2 separate regions of the Homo sapiens genome follow, and region 2 is linked to region 1. The links come from fine-mapping of genetic effects on gene expression. A gene starts in region 1. The other region holds a variant in brackets. All regions are shown on one strand. Distances are from middle to middle. Region 1 holds the start of SLC46A3 (solute carrier family 46 member 3). Region 2 holds the start of LOC124903143 (a long non-coding RNA gene).

What was found. PIP is the estimated chance that this variant, and not a neighbour inherited with it, causes the effect.
Region 2: its variant is the best candidate, but not a certain one, in a credible set for the expression of SLC46A3 in whole blood (INTERVAL, PIP 0.57).

What each region holds. Positions count from the first base shown.
Region 1 is chr13:28,713,984-28,723,589 of GRCh38, reverse strand. It overlaps SLC46A3 (solute carrier family 46 member 3), which reads left to right and starts at 4,620. Exons shown (of 6, transcript NM_181785.4): 1 at 4,620-5,094; 2 at 5,568-5,780. The coding sequence starts at 5,592. It also overlaps the pseudogene CYP51A1P2.
Region 2 is chr13:28,686,071-28,695,676 of GRCh38, reverse strand. LOC124903143 (a long non-coding RNA gene) reads right to left here and starts at 1,921. Exons shown (of 3, transcript XR_007063738.1): 1 at 1,513-1,921. RefSeq lists an enhancer at 1,670-2,202. The variant C/G (reference allele first, on the strand shown) is at 4,649.

The DNA of each region.
Region 1 (9,606 bases):
TACGATGTGCCTAATCCAGTTTTCTTGGAGCAGAAGAAAATGTTAAAAAGTGGCCTTAACAAAGCCCACTTTAAACAGCATGTTTCATTGGGAGATATACCTAATGCTAGATGACAAGTTAGTGGGTGCAGCGCACCAGCATGGCACATGTATACATATGTAACTAACCTGCACAATGTGCACATGTACCCTAAAACTTAAAGTATAATAAAAAAAAAAAAGAAAAAGAAACAAAGGAGTACTTTCAGAGTTGGGGAGAAAGTGGAGAAAAAAATGTGTTTGAAGCTCTTTCTGAGCTCATAATTTTAACAGCTAGCCACTGTTTGCATGGAAAGGAAATCAGAAGTCAACTCAATGAAAAGGTAGCACAGCTGTATGCAGATTTGGATGGAGGTTTCAGCCATGCAGCCTGGCTCTTACCAGGTTGGCTGCCTTTGCCTAGTTTCAGATGCAGGGACAGAGCTCATTGGGAAATCAAGGATATTTTCTATAAGGCAATCCAGAAACGCAGACAGTCTCAAGAAAAAATTGATGACATTCTCCAAACTTTACTAGATGCTACATACAAGGATGGGCGTCCTTTGACTGATGATGAAGTAGCAGGGATGCTTATTGGATTACTCTTGGCAGGGCAGCATTCATCCTCAACTACTAGTGCTTGGATGGACTTCTTTTTGGCCAGAGACAAAACACTTCAAGAAAAATGTTATTTAGAACAGAAAACAGTCTGTGGAGAGAATCTGCCTCCTTTAACTTATGACCAACTCAAGGATCTAAATTTACTTGATCGCTGTATAAAAGAAACATTAAGACTTAGACCTCCTATAATGATCATGATGAGAATGGCCAGAACTCCTCAGACTGTGGTAGGGTATACCATTCCTCCAGGACATCAGGTGTGTGTTTCTCCCACTGTCAATCAAAGACCTAAAGACTCATGGGTAGAACGCCTGGACTTTAATCCTGATTGCTACTTACAGGATAACCCAGCATCAGGGGAAAAGTTTGCCTATGTGCCATTTGGAGCTGGGTGTCATCGTTGAATTGGGGAAAATTTTGCCTATGTTCAAATTAAGACAATTTGGTCCACTATGCTTCGTTTATATGAATTTGATCTCATTGATGGATATTTTCCCATCGTGAATTATACAACTATGATTCACACCCCTGAAAACCCACTTATCCATTACAAACGAAGATCAAAATGAAAAAGGTTGCAAGGAACCAATATATGTGATCATCACTGTAAGCCACAAAGGCATTCGAAGAGAATGAAGTGTACAAAACAACTCTTGTAGTGTACTGTTTTTTTTGAGTGTGTAATTCTAAAAGCCAGTTTATGATTTAGTATTTTGTTAACTGAATGGTTCTATCAAATATAATAGCATTTGAAACATTTTCTAATAGCTATGATACTTATACATGTGCTTTCAGGAAGTTCATTAGTAAAACAATTGTTCAGGAGGATCTAGGTAATTGGCAGATTCTAAATAATATAATTTCCAGGTAGTAATTTTAAGAGTACTCTTAGCTCTTGCCAAATAAGTTCAGGGTATTCAAATCTTGGACTAGTCCTGCAAGGTATAAAGAATAAAAATCCCGGTGAGATACTTGGAAACCTCAGGTTATTATTTATCTGGGCAATTATTGTGTGGGTGAGGATGGAAGGGCAGGGAATAATTGAACATCTAAAGCCTTGAATGAGAGAATACTAATTCTTTTGGTATGATGATACTCAGAAATGGAGATGTTGTAGAAAAAAAATATCCTTTGGAATTTTAACTAAAATCACTGAATATAGGAAATTAAGAGATCCGGGACCATATTTGATAAGATTTCCTAAAAATAATGTAATTATTAATGCCAAAAACTGCTCATGTATCTTGATCTAATTACGAAATAATTACATATTTACCTGATAAATATGTATCTAGGTCTTCAAGGTCACATTTATGTGGAAGTCCAAAGTCAAGTCCTTAGGGGATAATTTTGTTTTGGCTCAGTTGTTCCCTGCTTCCTCTCTCTCTCTTTTTTTTTTTTTTTTTTTTTGAGATGGAGTCTCGCTCTGTCGCCCAGGCTGGAGTGCAGTGGCGCGATCTCAGCTCACTGCATCCTCCGCCTCCCGGGTTTAAGCAATTGTCTACATCAGCCTCCTGAGTAGTTGGGATTACAGGCACCTGCCACCACGCCTGGCTAATTTTTGTATTTTTAGTAGAGACAGGGTTTCACTCTTTTGGCTAGGCTGGTCTTGAACTCCTGACCTCGTGATCCACCCGCCTCGGCCTCCCAAAGTGCTGGGATTACAGGCATGAGCCACATGCCTGGCCCTCCCTGCTTCCTCTCTAGAATCCAATTAGGGATGTTTGTTACTACTTATGTTGATTAAAACAGTTAACAAACTTTTTTTCTTTTTAAAATGTGAGATCAGTGAACTCTGGTTTTAATATAATCTGAAACAAGGTCCTTGGGAGTAATATAATTGGTCACATTCTGTAAAGCACATTCTGTTTAGGAATCACTTATCTCAAATTATAACTCAGGGCCTAACTATATGAGATGGCTGAAAAAATACCACATTGTCTGTTTTCACTAGATGATGCCAAAATATTTTGCTTTACGTATATTACAGTTCTTTTTAAAACACTGGAAGACTCATGTTAAACTCTAATTGTGAAGGCAGAAACTCTGCTAATTTTTCACATTAAAATTCTCTTTGAAAAAATACAAAAAAAAAATGACTGTTGTCACCATAGCGATCAGCAGCAGAACTCATTAAGAAGACCTGGCTTTCTTCTTCGTGTGGAAGAGTAGGAATGCAAAGCGTGGAAGTATATTGGACATTAATTATTTTTGCCCCATAAGAAAGGACATTTTCAGCAGGGCACGGTGGCGCATGCCTGTAATCCCAGCACTTTGGGAGGCTGAGGTGGGCAGGTCCCCTGAGGTCAGGAGTTCAAGATCATCCTGGTCAACATGGTGAAACCCTGTCTCTACTAAAAATACAAAAATTAGCCGGCCATGGTGGCGCACACTTGTAACCCCAGCTACTCAGGAGGCTGAGGCAGGATCATTGCTTGAATCCGGGAGGCGGAGGTTGCAGTGAGCCAAGATCCTGCAACTGCACTCCGGCCTGGGTGACAGAGCGAGACTCCACCTCAAAAAAAAAAAAAAAAAAAAAGGACATCTTCTAAGTGCCGTTTAGAATAATATAGTACTTAGTACAAAGTACTGCAACTTAAAATATTATGTCTTCCTTGCAAACTGTATCTTACTCATGTTTGTTTATCTTCTTTCCAATATCCATGCTCCATTGTTTGAAACTCATAACAAGTGCTTCATAAATGCTGATTTGAAGAAGCTGGGAAGTAAGATTAAGTGGCAAGTCCAAGGTTACCAGCTACTAAGTATCAGTTAGGACTCAAACCTAAGACGTTTAACTCTGCATTCAGTGACACAACTGTCATTTAAGGAGTGCTGAGGAAGAGAAAGCAGCTCTGACATCCAGGTGCTGGAACTATCAGCTGGGCCTTGGTGTTGCTAAGAACTTTTCTGGACCATGGTGTTCTGTCGAATGAAAACAATTTCACGGAACACCAAAGTCAGACAAGAGCATTCTGTAACCATGATCAAGACAAAAACAAGACCACGTCATAATTTTGTCTGAACACGGACAAAATTTAGGCACTGTCTAAACCACAAAAATGACAAATATGTGTGACTGTTGCTTCTTTATCATTCATGGCTTTAGCCTCTGTCTAGTCTTGACTCCTAAATAAGACTTATTAAGATACCCAATCATAGAATTACTGCCATTTCCTGACAGCAACCAATCCAGAGTAAGGCCTTGCTTTCTTGAACTCTTCCCAAAATCACATAACGCAAGCCCATAGTAAATTCTAACACCTTCTTACTGAGATGCCCCCACGGTTCCTCATGCATGCATTTCTCCTGGCTTCAAGAAGTAGTAGCTCAATTCTTTTACTACAAGTTGTTCCTGGTGGGTGTGTTGGAGAGCACTGACAACTCCTCCTATGTCCAGGGGCTGTGTTGTGTATACATGCTGAGTGTTTAATTAGACAACCCTGTAAGACTTATCATCCCCACGTGGCAGATAAAGACATGGAGGTTCATGAAAATTTAACGATTTGCCCAAGTCCCCCCTCCCCTCCCCAGGAAAAGCCAGCGACCACATTCCAACCCTCCGCTAACTCTGCATTGAGCACTCTCTTTCCTATGCCCTCCACCTGCGCCCATTCCCCTCTTCTGCGGGCCGACCGGGATCCTGCTGGGGGCTACAGCCCAAACATGTTACTTTTCCAACTGTTGTTTTATGTGTTTCTATGAGAAAGGATATTCGGATTCAGAAATGCTTTGCAACTCCAGAGCTGTTGAGCCTGCGGCGCGGCCCACCACTCAACAGCGGTGCTGAGTGGCTGCTCGGTCGCGCGGGATCCACTCCGGGCCTCCGAGGGTGGGTGCACGATCCACTAGCCACTCTCCAGGGGAGAGTGACGTCCGGGTGGACCAATCGCCGCTGGGGCACCGACCGCTGGGCCCAATCGCAGGAGAGCCGGGTAGAACAGTGACAGCGCCGCGGCAGCCGACCCCGCCTCCTCGGCGGACAGCGATGCTCAGCTGGCTGCGGCCGAGTCATCGCCTAGCGCTGGCAGGGCCGCTGACCGACCGACGGAGGCGCCGATTGGCCGATTGTCCACTGCGCAGAAGGAGCAGCTGCTCCGCGCCCCGCCGCGCCGCGCTGAGGCCGAGGTCCGCAGGGCCGCGGGGAAGCCGAGGGCTGCCGGAGAACCCTGCAGGTGTCACTCGGGACGCGGAAGTGCGCTTGCCGAGGTTTGCTTTACAATACGCTTGAGACTCCCCGACAAGCGTAATTTGGTCGAGTTCGACGGGAAAGTACTCTCCCCACCCCAGCGCCGGCCGCGTAGTCCGAGGTTACTGTCCCCGGCGCGTCCTCTGTTGCCCCAGTCCAGAGGCTGCCCTTGAACCCGGGCGCGCACGAGCGCAGGGCATCCGAGGCGACAGCCCCTGGCACGGCCCGACCTGTACCCAGCCTGGCAGGAAGACTGTAATCGTGGGGTGAGTTAAAAATAAGGCCCTTTCGATTGGGAGCTGCTTTTTAAAACGCCCCCTCCCTGTCCGTTTTTAATACGCAGCAAAATAACAATAACAATTGTGCAACTGTCGCTTCCCAAAAGGAACCTCATTGTTGAACTTACGAAAAATCAGTTGGCAATATACAGTGTGGGAACTGTACTGTGATCATTGGCTAACCAAGATGGGTGACAGTTTATGATTTCAAAGACTCAAAGGCGGCTTGAGTCCTACAATGTCCTACTCATAAAAATGGAAAGCATGGCAGCCTCAGGTTGTTACAGAGTACTCTACTCCAAAGTAAAAGTTATTCTCTGAGAAAGTGCTTACTGCCTTTTCTGTTCTCTAGTTTGCTTGTTTAAACATTTACTCCACAAAATTGCTCAAACTTACCCATCTTTGAATATCTAGCCTCTGGGATGAGACAGATGATCTTTCTCCGTTTTCACTTTTTATAGAATACAGCTACCTACCCAGGCAATATGAAGATTTTATTTGTAGAACCTGCCATTTTCCTTAGTGCATTTGCTATGACTTTGACCGGTCCACTGACAACGCAATATGTTTATCGGAGAATATGGGAAGAAACTGGCAACTACACTTTTTCATCTGATAGCAATATTTCTGAGTGTGAAAAAAACAAAAGCAGCCCAATTTTTGCATTCCAGGAGGTAAGAAATTACAATATCCATAGTATTTAATAAAATGGGAATGTATACCGGGCTTTGAGTTAAAGAGGACCGTGAACTCATCATCCATTGGTCTCTCTAGGGCGGCCATCAAAGTCCTAAATCCCAAACCTAATGGCCTTTACTGGGAACTCACCTCATTTGAAGTTTCCTGACACCTTTCAAATCTGCCTCTTCTTCTTAAAACACCCTCCTGCTCTGTGACACTAGCTCTTCTCCTTTCTCTCGGAAAATTTCACCACAGTGTCATCTCTTCTGTGGCTGTCTCCTTGCTTTGTCCTAAAAAAAAAAAAAAAAAAAAAAAAAGTCTGAAAATTGGGGCAGGGCAGGCTGGAATGAGCTACTTGGTGGACAGGGGTGGCTGAAACATGGTGTTTCTGTCTCTCACTTGCTCTATTCTTCCCCAATCCTTTTACTGTTTCTGCATGTCCCAGCTTTCAGGGACTCTAGAAAGTGGCCCATCACTGAAGATTGTGAGCCAGTGTCTGTCACAGGGTGGGGTGGAGGAGCATTTATTATTTGGTGGTGGTATCAAATCAGCCTTGGCTCTCACGTGTTGAGGAGCAGCTGTGTGGGGACATCTGGAGTGGGGAGTACCCACCGTTGACACCAAAGATGTTTAGCCAGATATTAAGGAGGCTTTCTTCCTCCCTCTCCAGCAATCTCCCCAGTTTTTTTGTGTGTAAAACAGGAGGCAGGCACTTCACCATTCTCCTGGTCCCTTGGGCAGTTTTTGACAAAAGTCTACCATTTCAAAATGCAAAGAGATAGTATCCAGGTTTGGAAATTTTTTTTTTTTTCCTACAATGCCTCAAAAACAAATCACACCTGTAAACTCTAAACTCTTCTTCTGGGGGATATTTTGTGATTGTAAAGGAGTGGTGCTGCCTTCCCAGTGAAAGATGAAATGAATTAAAAGGAATTGAGTCACCTCCTGCTGGCTCTGTGAGTCTCTGTGACTGGGAGAAGAGCCTGAGAAGGAGGAAATGGCAAACCGCCCCAGAGGCAAGGTTCTAGCACTTCCCGAGGTGTCAGGTGGAACCTTGCTGGGGTGAGGTTAGGCAATTTGGCACAATCCCTAATCTTACTCATTTCCTCATTCCCATGGGAAACGTTTTCTTGGGAGTGATTATTTCTGAGCAGCCTGGAAGACATCAAGGTTCTGGCGTAGAGTAAGGTCATAAAAAAAAAGGGCCCTGAGTCTCACCCAGCGGTCTTATCTCCCTTCAAGAATGTCTCCTAGGTCATTCCCGGGAGTGAGAAGCTTCGATCGGCTCACAGTTTCTTTTTGTAAGTGTTTATTCATGCATTAAACAAATGTTTATCACACATTATCCTGTGGTGACAAGGATAAGCAAAACGGCTCTGAACCCGAGAAGCCCAGAGTCTCTCTAGGTTGAGAAAAACACACATAAACAGAATAGAGTTTAACAAATCCTCTTAGTTTCAAAGTTGGGGTCCTACAGCAGGGATGCTCTTCAGATTTCGGCTCTGGAGACGTTTGTTAATATACATACTTGAATCCCATCCTGGAACCTCTAACACAGTGTTTTTTAACCTTGACTGGACATGGGAATCACCTGAAGTGTTTTTTATTTTATTTTGTTTATTATGTATTTATGCATGTATGGTACTTTTTGAGACAGGGTCTCATTCTGCTGCCCACGCTGGAGTGGAGTGGCGTGGTAATAGCTCGCTGCAACTTTGAACTCCTAGGCTCAAGGGATCCTCTCACCTCAGCCTCCTGAGTAGCTGGGACTACAGGCACGTGCCACTACACTCAGCTAATTTTTGATTTTTTTTTTTTTTTTTTGTAGAGACAGGGTCTTCCTCTGTTTCCCAGGCTGGCCTTGAACTCGTGGCCTCAAGTGAGCCTCCTGTCTGGTCCTCTCAAAGTGTTGGGATTACAGGCGTGAGCCACCGTGCCCGGTCTTATTTTATTTTTTTAATTGACAGATAATCATTGTACATATTCATGGAGTATACAGTGGTGTTTTGATACATACAATGTATAGTGATCAGATCAGGCTAATTAGCATATCCATCAACTCAGACATCTCTCATTTCTTTGTGTTGGGAACATTCAATACCCTCCTTCTTGCTATTTGAAACTATATAACATATTACTGTTAACTGTAGTCACCCTGTGGTGCTACAGAACACCAGAACTTATTCCTCCTGTCTAGCTGTAATTTTGTATCCTTTAACAAATTTCTTCTTACAGGCTCATCAATTTCTGTATTTGATTCTGTGCTTTCTTTTGGCTGACCTGTAGGAGCAGGCCCCCTGGTTGCAGTGGGAGGGACCAGGGAGGAGAGGACAAGAATGTCTGGGAAAGTCTGCTGCTCTTGCCCTCTTGGACTGAGGGAAGACGGGCCTTGGTCCAGCCAGCTTGGTGGCTTCTGCAACCATACAGGGGGCAAGTGTTGGCCCACCTCCAGCCTGGCCCAGCTGCTGAGAGCCCCCTACTGCCCACAGCAGTGGTCTCATGTCAAAGATTTTTGCCGAATTTTCAAATTGACTTTTTCATTTATTGTTTCTTAATTGGATTAATATTCAAGAGAACCTACTACTCTAGATCCCTTCCCTTAAAGTTGGTGCTCTTAGACCTCTGGGAACCAGAAACCACCCCTACCCTCACCTGCCACCCACGCTGGAGTGGTGGCCTACTCTCTGTTTGCTCCTTAGGACAAAGGAACATTTTTGTTTCCCAGGAGGCACCACCATCGCCTTCAGTGATTCATTCAATGACTAAAAACGGTTTACATCTGTTTTTTAAATCAGCTTAGCATTTCCCAGTATACAAATGGCACACACTTTTTATATTGACTTTGGAAAATACAGAGCAATGGCAAGCAAAAAATGTTTTAAGATCATGCAAAATTTCTTCCATCAAGTAACTAGTGTAATGATTGACACATCTTCCAATCTGTGTGTGTATGTCATCTGTCATTGTCATTTTGGTCCTTGGAAGTTGAGTTTATCTTACTCCTCAGGTCATGACATACTACCACCTTTATTTACTTTTTATTTTTATTTATTTGAGATGGAGTCTCACTGTGTCACCCAGGCTGGAGTGCAATGGCACAATCTCAGCTCATTGCAACCTCTGCCTCCCAGGTTCAAGCAATTCTTCTGCCTCAGCCTCCCAAGTAGCGGAGACTACAGGCGTACGCCACCACGCCTGGCTAATTTTTGTATTTTTAGTAGAGACAGGGTTTTGCCATGTTGGCCAGGCTGGTCTCAAACTCCTGACCTCAAGTGATCCGCCCACCTTGGCCCCCCAAAGTGCTAGGATTACAGGCGTGAGCCACCGTGCCTGGCCTAGTTTTTTTAAATTTATTTTTAGAGACAGGGTCTCGCTATGTTGCCCAGGCTGGTCTCAAATTCCTGGGCACAAGTGATGCTCCCACCTCGGCCTCCCACAGTGCTGGGATTATAAGCGTAAGCCACCACACTCAGCCACGGTATGCTACCATCTGTAGACAGTGTAAGTCTCCTCTTTCAATTTTATCTTATTTTAAATTCTTTTATTTAGTAAATAAAGGAAGATGTTTCTCACTAATCTATCTGTGAAGACATAGGTAAAAAAAAAAAATAAGGGCAACAGCCAAGCTCTCCCTAAATAAAGGTTTTTTTTTTTTTTTTTTGTATTTTTTGGTAGAGACAGAGTTTTACCATGTTGGCCAAGCTGGTCTCAAACTCCTGACCTCAAGTGATCCTCCTGCCTCAGCCTCCCAAAATATGAGGATTACAGGCATGAGCCACCACGCCCGACCAAAATCTGAAACTTTTTGATCACCACACT
Region 2 (9,606 bases), 28 kb after region 1:
CTATAAATGTTTATAGATGCTTCATCTATAATAGCCCCAAACTGGAAATGACCCAAATAACCTTCAATAGATGAATAAACAAAATATAAATATCCATACAGTGAATACTACTGAGCAATAAAAAAAAACAAATTACTCACATATTCAACAACATGAAGAGTTTTAAAAACATTACACAAAGCAAAAGAAACCAAATACAAAACAATTACATACTGTATGATTCTATGTACATGAAATTCTTGAAAAAAAAAAAAACCCACAAACTAATCTACAGTGTGAGAAATGAGATGAGGGGTTGCCTGGGGCTTGGGGCAGGAGACACAGGGATTAAAAAGTGACAGGAGAGAACGTTCTGGGATGATGGACATATTTTTTATTTTGATTATGTTGGTTATACAGTTATATACATTTGTCAAAATATATGAATATACTGTGTTATGTAAATTATACCTCAATAAAGTTCAAAAGATTATATTGACCCTTTTGGGAAAGACAGGTAGCAAATGAAGAGGGGATTTACGTAGGCAAAGCACTCCAACATTCTTGTCCCTCAAAGTTATTTGATTTCTTTCTTCTATACTAGTGACTTTCAAAATATGGTCCTTAGTTTAGTAGCATTACCATAACCTACAAACTTGTTAGAAATGCAAATTCTCAGGCTTCAACTCAACCTTTCTGAATCACAAACTCTAGGAGTGGGGTTCAGCAATCTGTGTTTTTAAAAGCCCTCCTATGATTCTGGTGCACACAAAAGCTTGAGAACTGATGCTCTACTCTATGTCAAGGACTTCTGGCATCTCCATTTCACTTAGTGTGTGCCTGTGGTGAATCCAATTTTACAAAGTATTAAGCCACATCCAGCTCCTTGAAATATTTGAGTCTAGAATTATCTTACATAAGGACATTATACAATATTCTAAAAGCACATTCAAAATCTATTCCTTCATTAAGTGGTGTTGAGTCAAAAAAAAAAAGTCTATTCCATCACACACCTGAATTTCTTTTTTTTAATTTCTGTATCCAGCAAAACTAAGCTTCATAAATGAAGGAGAAATAGTCTTTTCCTGACAAGCAAATGCTGAGGGAATTTGCCACTACCAAATCAGCACTACAAGGAATGCTAAAGGAGTTCTAAATCTTGAAACAAAACTTGGTATGTACCAAAATGGAACCTGCTGAAAGCATCACAGGGTCTATAAAGCAGTAACACAGTGAAAAAAACAAAGTATCTATGTAACAACTAATATGATAAATAGAATAGTACCTCACATCCCAATATTAACATTGAATGTAAATGGCCTAAATGCTCCACTTAAAAGATACACAGTGGGATTTCCAGCCAGATGGCTGAATAGGAACAGCTCCAGTCTGCAGCTCCCAGTGGGATCAACAGAGAAGATAGGTGATTTCTGCATTTCCAAGTGAGATACCTGGTTCATCTCACTGGGACTGGTTGGACAGTGGGAACAGCCCACGGAGGGTGAGCCAAAGCAGGGTGGGGTGTCGCCTTACCTGGGAAGTGCAAGGGGTCGGGGGATTTCCTTTTCCTAGCCAAGGTAAGCTGTGAGAGACTGTACGGGGAGGAACAGTGCACTCCTGCCCAGATACTGTACTTTTCCCACATTCTTTGCAAACGGCAGACCAGGAGATTCCTTCCAGTGCCTGGCTGTGTGGGTCCCACACCCACAGAGCCCAGCAAGCTAAGATCCATTGGCTTGAAATTCTCGCTGCTAGCACAGAAGTCTGAGATCGACCTGAGACGCTGGAGCTTGGCTGGGGGGTGGGGTGTCCACCATTGCTGAGGCTTGAGCAAGCAGTATTATGCTCACAGTGTAAACAAAGCCGCCAGGAATTTCGAACTGGGAGGAGCCCACCGCAGCTCAGCAAGGCCAACTGCCTCTCTAGATTCCACCTCTGTGGGCAGGGCATCTCTGAACAAAAGACAGCAGCCCCAGTCAGGGACCTATAGATAAAACCCCCATCTCCCTGGGACAGAGCACCTGGGGGAAGGGGCAGCTGTGGGCACAGCTTCAGCAGACTTAAACATCCCTGCCTGACAGCTCTGAAGAGAGCAGTGGTTCTCCCAGCACAGTGTTTGAGCTCTGATAACAGACAGACTGCCACCTCAAGTGGGTCCATGACCCCCGTGTAGCCTGACTGGGAGACACCTCCCAGTAAGGTCCAACAGACACCTCATAGAGGAGAGCTCTGGCTGGCATCTGGCAGGTGCCCCTCTGGGACAAAGCTTCCAGAGGAAGGATAAGGCAGCAGTATTTGCTGTTCTGCAGACTCCACTGGTGATATCCCGGCAAACAGGGTCTGGAGTGGACCTCCAGCAAACTCCAACAGACCTGCAGCTGAGGGACCTGTTAGAAGGGAAACTAACAGATGAAAAGAATAGCATCAACATCAACAAAAAGGACATCCACACCAAAACCCCATCTGTAGGTCACCAACATCAAAGACCAAAGGTAGATAAAACCACAAAGATGGGGAGAAACCAGTGCAGAAAGACTGAACATTCCAAAAACCAGAACACCTCTTCTCCTCCAAAGAATCATAACTTCTCGCCAGCAAGAGAAAAAAACTGGACGGAGAATAAGTTTGACGAATTGACAGAAGTAGGCTTCAGAAGGTGGGTAATTACAAACTCCTCCAAGCTAAAGGAGCATGTTCTAACCCAACACAAGGAAGCTAAGAACCTTGAAAAAAGGTTAGATGAATTGCTACATAACCAATGTAGAGAACATAAATGACCTGATGGAGCTCAAAAACACAGCATGAGAACTTTGTAAAGCATACACAAGCTTCAGTAGCCGAATCAATCATGCAGAAGAAAGGATACCAGTGATTGAAGATCAACTTAATGAAATAAAGCGAGAAGACAAGATTAGAGAAAAAGGAGTGAAAAGAAACAAAGGCTCCGAGAAATATGGGACTATGTGAAAAGATCAAATCTACGTTTGATGGCTGTACCTGAAAGTGACAGGGAGAATGGAACCAAGCTGGAAAACACTCTTCAGGATATTATCCAGGAGAACTTCCCCAACCTAGCAAGGCAGGCCAACATTCAAATTCAGGAAATACAGAGAACACAACAAAGATATTCCTCAAGAATAGCAACCCCAATACACAAAATGATCAGATTCACCAAGGTTGAAATGAAGGAAAAAATGTTAAGGGCAGCCAGAAACAAAGGCTGGGTTTCCCGCAAAGTGAAGCCCATCAGACTAACAGTGGATCTCTTGGAAGATACCCTCCAAGCCAGAGAGTGGGGGCCAATATTCAACATTCTTAGGGAAAGGAATTTTCAACCCAGAATTTCATATCCAGCCAAACTAAGCTTCATAAGTGAAGGAGAAATAAAAGCCTTTACAGAAAAGCAAATGCTGAGAGATTTTGTCATTAACCAGGCCTGCATTTCAAGAGCTCCTGAGGGAAGTCCTAAACATGGAAAGGAACAACTGGTACCAGCCACAGCAAAAACATGCCAAATTGTAAAGACCATCGATGCTATGAAGAAACTGCATCAACTAACAGGCAAAATAAATAGCTAGCATCATAATGATAGGATCAAATTCACATATAAAAATATTAACTTTAAATGTCAATGGGTTAAATGCCCCAACTAAAAGACACAGACTGTCAAATTGGATAGAGTCAAGACCCATTGGTGTGCTGTATTCAGGAGACCATCTCACATGCTAAAACACACATAGGCTCAAAATAAAGGGATGGAGGAAGATCTACCAAGCAAATGGAAAGCAAAAAAAAGCAGGGGTTGAAATCCTAGCCTCTGATAAAACAGACTTTAAACCAACAAAGAGCAAAAGAGACAAAGAAGGGCATTATACAATGGTAAAGTGATCAACGCAACAGGAAGAGCTAACTATTCTAAATATATATGCTCCCAGATTCATAAAGCAAGTTCTTAGAGACCTACAAAGAGACTTAGACTCCTACACAATAATAGTGGGAGACTTTAACACCCCACTGTCAATATTAGATTGATGAGACAGAAGATTACCAAGGATATCCAGGACTTGAACTCAGCTCTGGACCAAGTGGACCTAATAGACATCTACAGAACTCTCTACTCCAGATTAACAGAATATACATTCTTCTCAGCACCACATTGCACTTGTTCTAAAATTGACCACATAATTGGAAGTAAAACACTCCTCAGCAAATGTGAAAAAACAGAAATCACAACAAACTGTCTCTCAGACCAGAGTGCAATCAAATTAGAACTCAAGATTAAGAAACTCACTCAAAACCACACAACTACGCGGAAACTGAACAACCTGCTCCTGAATGACTACTGGGTAAATAACGAAATGAAGGCAGAAATAAAGATGTTATTTGAAACCAGTGAGAACAATGACACAGCTTACCAGAATCTCTGAGACACATTTAAAGCAGGGTGGAGAGAGAAATTTTTAGCACTAAATGCCCATAAGAGAAAGCAGGAAAGATCTAAAATCGACAACCTAACATCACAATTAAAAGAACTAGAGAAGCAAGAGCAAACAAACTCAAAAGCTAGCAGAAGACAAGCAATAACTAACATCAGAGCGGAATTGAAGGAGATAGAGACACAAAAAAAACCTTCAAAAAATCAATGAATCCAGAAGCTGTTTTTTTTTAA[C/G]AAGATCAACAAAGTAGATAGACCACCAGCCAGACTAATAAAGAAGAAAAGAGAGAAGAATCAAATAGACACAATAAAAAATAATAAAGGGTATATCACCACTGATCCCACAGAAATAACAAACTATCATCAGAGAATACTATAAACACCTCTATGCAAATAAACTAGAAAATCTAGAAGAAATGGATAAATTTCTGGACACATATATCATCCCAAGACTAAACCAGGAAGAAGTTGAATCTCTGAATAGACCAATAACAGGTTCTGAAATTGAGGCAATAATTAATAGCTTACCAACCAAAAAAAATCCAGGACCAGATGGATTCACAGCTGAACTCTACCAAAGTGACAAAGAGGAGCTGGTATCATTCCTTCTGAAACTATTCCAATCAATAGAAAAAGAGAGAATCCTCCCTAACTCATTTTATGAGGCCAGCATCATTCTGATACCAAAACCTGGCAGAGACACACCAAAAAAAGAAAATTTTAGGCTAATATCCCTGATAAACATCAATGCAAAAATCCTCAGTAAAATACTGGCAAACCAAATCCAGCAGCACATCAAAAAGCTTATTCACCACAATCAAGTCGGCTTCATCCCTGGGATGCAACGCTGGTTCAACATACACCAATCAATAAATGTAATCCATCACATGAACAGAACCAACAACAAAACCACATGATTATCTCAATAGATGCAGAAAAGGCCTTCGACAAAATTCAACACCTCTTCATACTAAAAACTCTCAATAAACTAGGTATTGATGGAACGTATCTCAAAATAATAAGAGCTATTTATGACAAACCCACAGTCAATATCATACTGAATGGGCAAAAACTGGAAGCATTCCCTTTGAAAACCAGCACAAGACAAGGAGGCCCTCTCTCTCCTGTTCAACATAGTATTGGAAATTCTGGCCAGGGCAATCAGGCAAGAGCAAGAAATAAAGGGTATTCAATTAGGAAAAGAGGAAGTCAAATTGTCTCTGTTTGCAGATGACATGATTGTATATTTAGAAAACCCCATTGTCTCAGCCCAGAATCTCCTTAAGCTGATAAGCAACTTCAGCAAAGTCTCGGGATACAAAATCAATGTGCAAAAATCACAAGCATTCCTATACACCAATAACAGACAGAGAGTCAAATCATGAGTGAACTCCCATTCACAACTGCTTCAAAGAAAATAAAATACCTAGGAATCCAACTTATAAGGGATGTGAAGGATCTCTTCAAGGAGAACTACAAACCACTGCTCAACGAAATAAAAGAGGACACAAACAAATGGAAGAACATTCCATGCTCACGGATAGGAAGAATCAATATTGTGAAAATGGCCATAGTGCCCAAAGTAATTTATAGATTCAATGCTATCCCCATCAAGCTACCACTGACCTTCTTCACAGAACTGGAAAAAACTACTTGAAATTTCAAATGGAACCAAAAAAGAGCCCACATAGCCAAGACAATCCTAAGCAAGAAGAACAAAGCTGGAGGCATCATGCTACCTGACTTCAAACTATACTACAAGGCTACAGCAACCAAAACAGCATGGTACTGGTAGCAAAACAGATATATAGACCAATGGAACAGAACAGATGCCACAGAAATAACACCACACATCTACAACCATCTGATATTTGACAAACCTGACAAAAACAAGCAATGGGGAAAGGACTCCCTATTTAATAAATGGTGCTGGGAAAACTGGGTAGCCATATGCAGAAAGCTGAAACTGGATCCCTTCCTTATACCTTATACAATAATTAACTCAAGATGAATTAATGACTTAAATGTAAGACCTAAAACCATAAAAACTCTAGAAGAAAACCTAAGCAATACCATTCAGGACATAGGCATGGGCAAAGACTTCATGACTAAACACCAAAAGCAATGGCAACAAAAGCCAAAATAGACAAATGGGATCTAATTAAACTAAAGAGCTTCTGCACAGCAAAAGAAACTATCTTCAGAGTGAACAGGCAACCTACAGATTGGGAGAAAATTTTTACAATCTATCCATCTGACAAAGGGCTAATATCCAGAATCTACAAAGAATTTAAACAAATTTATAAGACAAAAACAAACAGCCTCATCAAAAAATGGGCAACGGATATGAACAGACACTTCTTAAAAGAAGATGTTTATGCAGCCAGCAAACTTATGAAAAAATGCTCATTATCACTGGTCATTAGAGAATGCAAATCAATACCACAATGAGATAGCATCTCACGCCAGTTAGAATGGTGATCATTAAAAAGTCAGGAAACAACAGGTGCTGGGGAGGATGTGGAGTAATAGGAACAATTTTACACTGTTGGGAGTGTAAATTAGTTCAACCATTGTGGAAGATAGTGTGGTGATTCCTCAAGGATCTAGAACTAGAAATACCATTTGACCTAGCAATCCCATTACTTGGTATATACCCAAAGGATTATAAATCATTCTACTATAAAGACACATGCACACGTATGTTTACTGCAGCACTGTTCACAATAGCAAAGTCTTGGAACCAACCCAAATGCCCATCAGTGATAGACTGGATAAAGAAAATGTGGCACATATACACCATGGAATATTATGCAGCCATAAAAAAGGATGAGTTCATGTTCTTTGCAGGGACATAGATGAAACTGGAAACCATCATTTTCAGCAAAGTTACACAAGAACAGAAAACCAAACACTGCATGTTCTCACTCATAAGTGAGAGTTGAACAATGAGAACACGTGGACACAGGGAGGGGAACATTACATGCTGGGGCCTGCTGGGGGGTGGGAGGGCTGGGGGAGGGATAGCATTAGGAGAAATACCTAATGTAAATGACGAGTTGATACTTAATGTAAATGTAAATACCTAATGTAAATGACCAACATGGCACATGTATACCTATGTAACAAACCTGCACATTGTGCACATGTACCCTAGAACTTAAAGTCTTATAATTCAAAAAAAAGAATTAGAAAAAAAAGATACAAAATCAGAGAATTAATTTAAAAAAATACACCAACCAAATATTTGATGTCTTCTAGAGCCTCACCTGACAGATAAGGACTCATAAACTCAAGGTAAAGGTGTGGAAAAAGATATTCCACACAAATGGCAATCAAAAGTGAGCAGGAGTAGCTACTCTTATATAAGACAAAACAGACTTTAAAGCAACCACAGTAAAAAAAGACAAATAAGGACATTATGTAATGATAAAAGAATCAGTCCAACAAGAAGACACTACAATCCTGGATTTATATTTACCTAACACTGGAACTCCCAGATTTATAAAACAATTCCTACTAGACCTAAGAGATGAGACAGACAGCAACACAATAATAGTGGGGGACTTAATACTCCACCGAAAGCACTAGAGAGATCATCAAGACAAAGCCAACAAAGAAACAACAGACTTAAACTATACCCTAGAACAAATGGACTTAACAGCTATTTACAGAACATTCTCAACAACTATAGAGTATACATTCTTCTCATAGGCACACGGAACATCCTCCAAGATAGACCATATAACAGGCCACAAAACAAGTCTCAATAAATTTAAGAAAATTGAAATTGTATCAAGTATCTTCTCAGATCAGAGTGGAATAAAACTGGAAATCAACTCCAAAACTATATAGATACATGGAAATTAAATAATCTGCTCTTGAATGATTTTTTGGTTAACAATGAAATCAAGTTGAAAATTTAAAAATTCTTTGAAATAAATGATAATAGTGACACAAGTTATCAAAACCTCTGGGATATAGCAAAAGCAGTGCTAAGAGGAAAACTCATAGCATTAAATACCTACATCAAAAAGTCTGAAAGAGAACAAACCGACAATCTAATGTCACACCTCAAGGAACTAGGGAAACAAGAACAAACTAAACCCAAAGCCAACAGAAGAAAAGAAATAACAAAGGTCAGGGCGGAACTAAATGAAATTGAAACAAAAAAAATACAAAAGATAAATGAAACAAAAAAGCTGATTCTTTAAAAAGATACACAAAATCGATAGATCATTAGTGAGATTAAGAAGAGAGAGGTCCAAATAAGCTCAATTAGAAATGAAACTGGAAATATTACAACTGACCTCTGAAATACAAATGATCATTCAAGGCTACTATGAACACCTTTATGTGCACAACCTAGAAAATCTAGAGGAAATGGATAAATTCCTGGAAACATATAACCCTCTTAGATCAAATCAGAAAGAAACAGAAGCCCTGAACATACCAATAACAAGCAGCAAAATGGAATCATTTATTTAAAAATTGCCAATGAAAAAAGTACACGACCAGATGGATTCATAGCTGAATTCTACTAGACATTCAAATTGGTACCAATCCTACTGAAACTATTCCAAATGATGAGAAAGAGGGAATCCTTCGTAAATCATTCTATGACACCAATATCACCCTAATACCAATAGCAGGGAAGGACATTTAAAAAAAAAGAAATCTACAAACCAATATCCCTGATGAACATAGATGCAAAAATCCTCAAACAAATACTAGCTAACTGAATCCAACAGCACATCCAAAAGATAATACATCATAATCAAGTGAGTTTCACTCCAGGGATGGTTTAACATACACAAGTCAATAAATGTGATACATCACATAAACAGAATTAAAAATAAAAATCATATCATCATCTCAATAGATGCAGAAAAAGCATTTGATAAAATCCAGCATCGCTTTAGGATAAAAACCCTTAACAAAATAGGCATAGAAGGGACTTACCTCAAAGTAATAAAAGCCATATATGGGAAACCCATAGCCAACTAGCCAACATCATTCTGATTGGGGAAAAGTTGAAAATATTCCTCCTGAGAACTGGAACAAGACAAGGATGCCCACTTTCACCATTTCTCCTCAACATAGTTCTAGAAGTTCTAGCCAGAGCAATTAGGCAAGAGGAAGAAATAAAGGGCATCCAATTTGGAAAAGAGGAAGTCGAACTGTCGCTATTC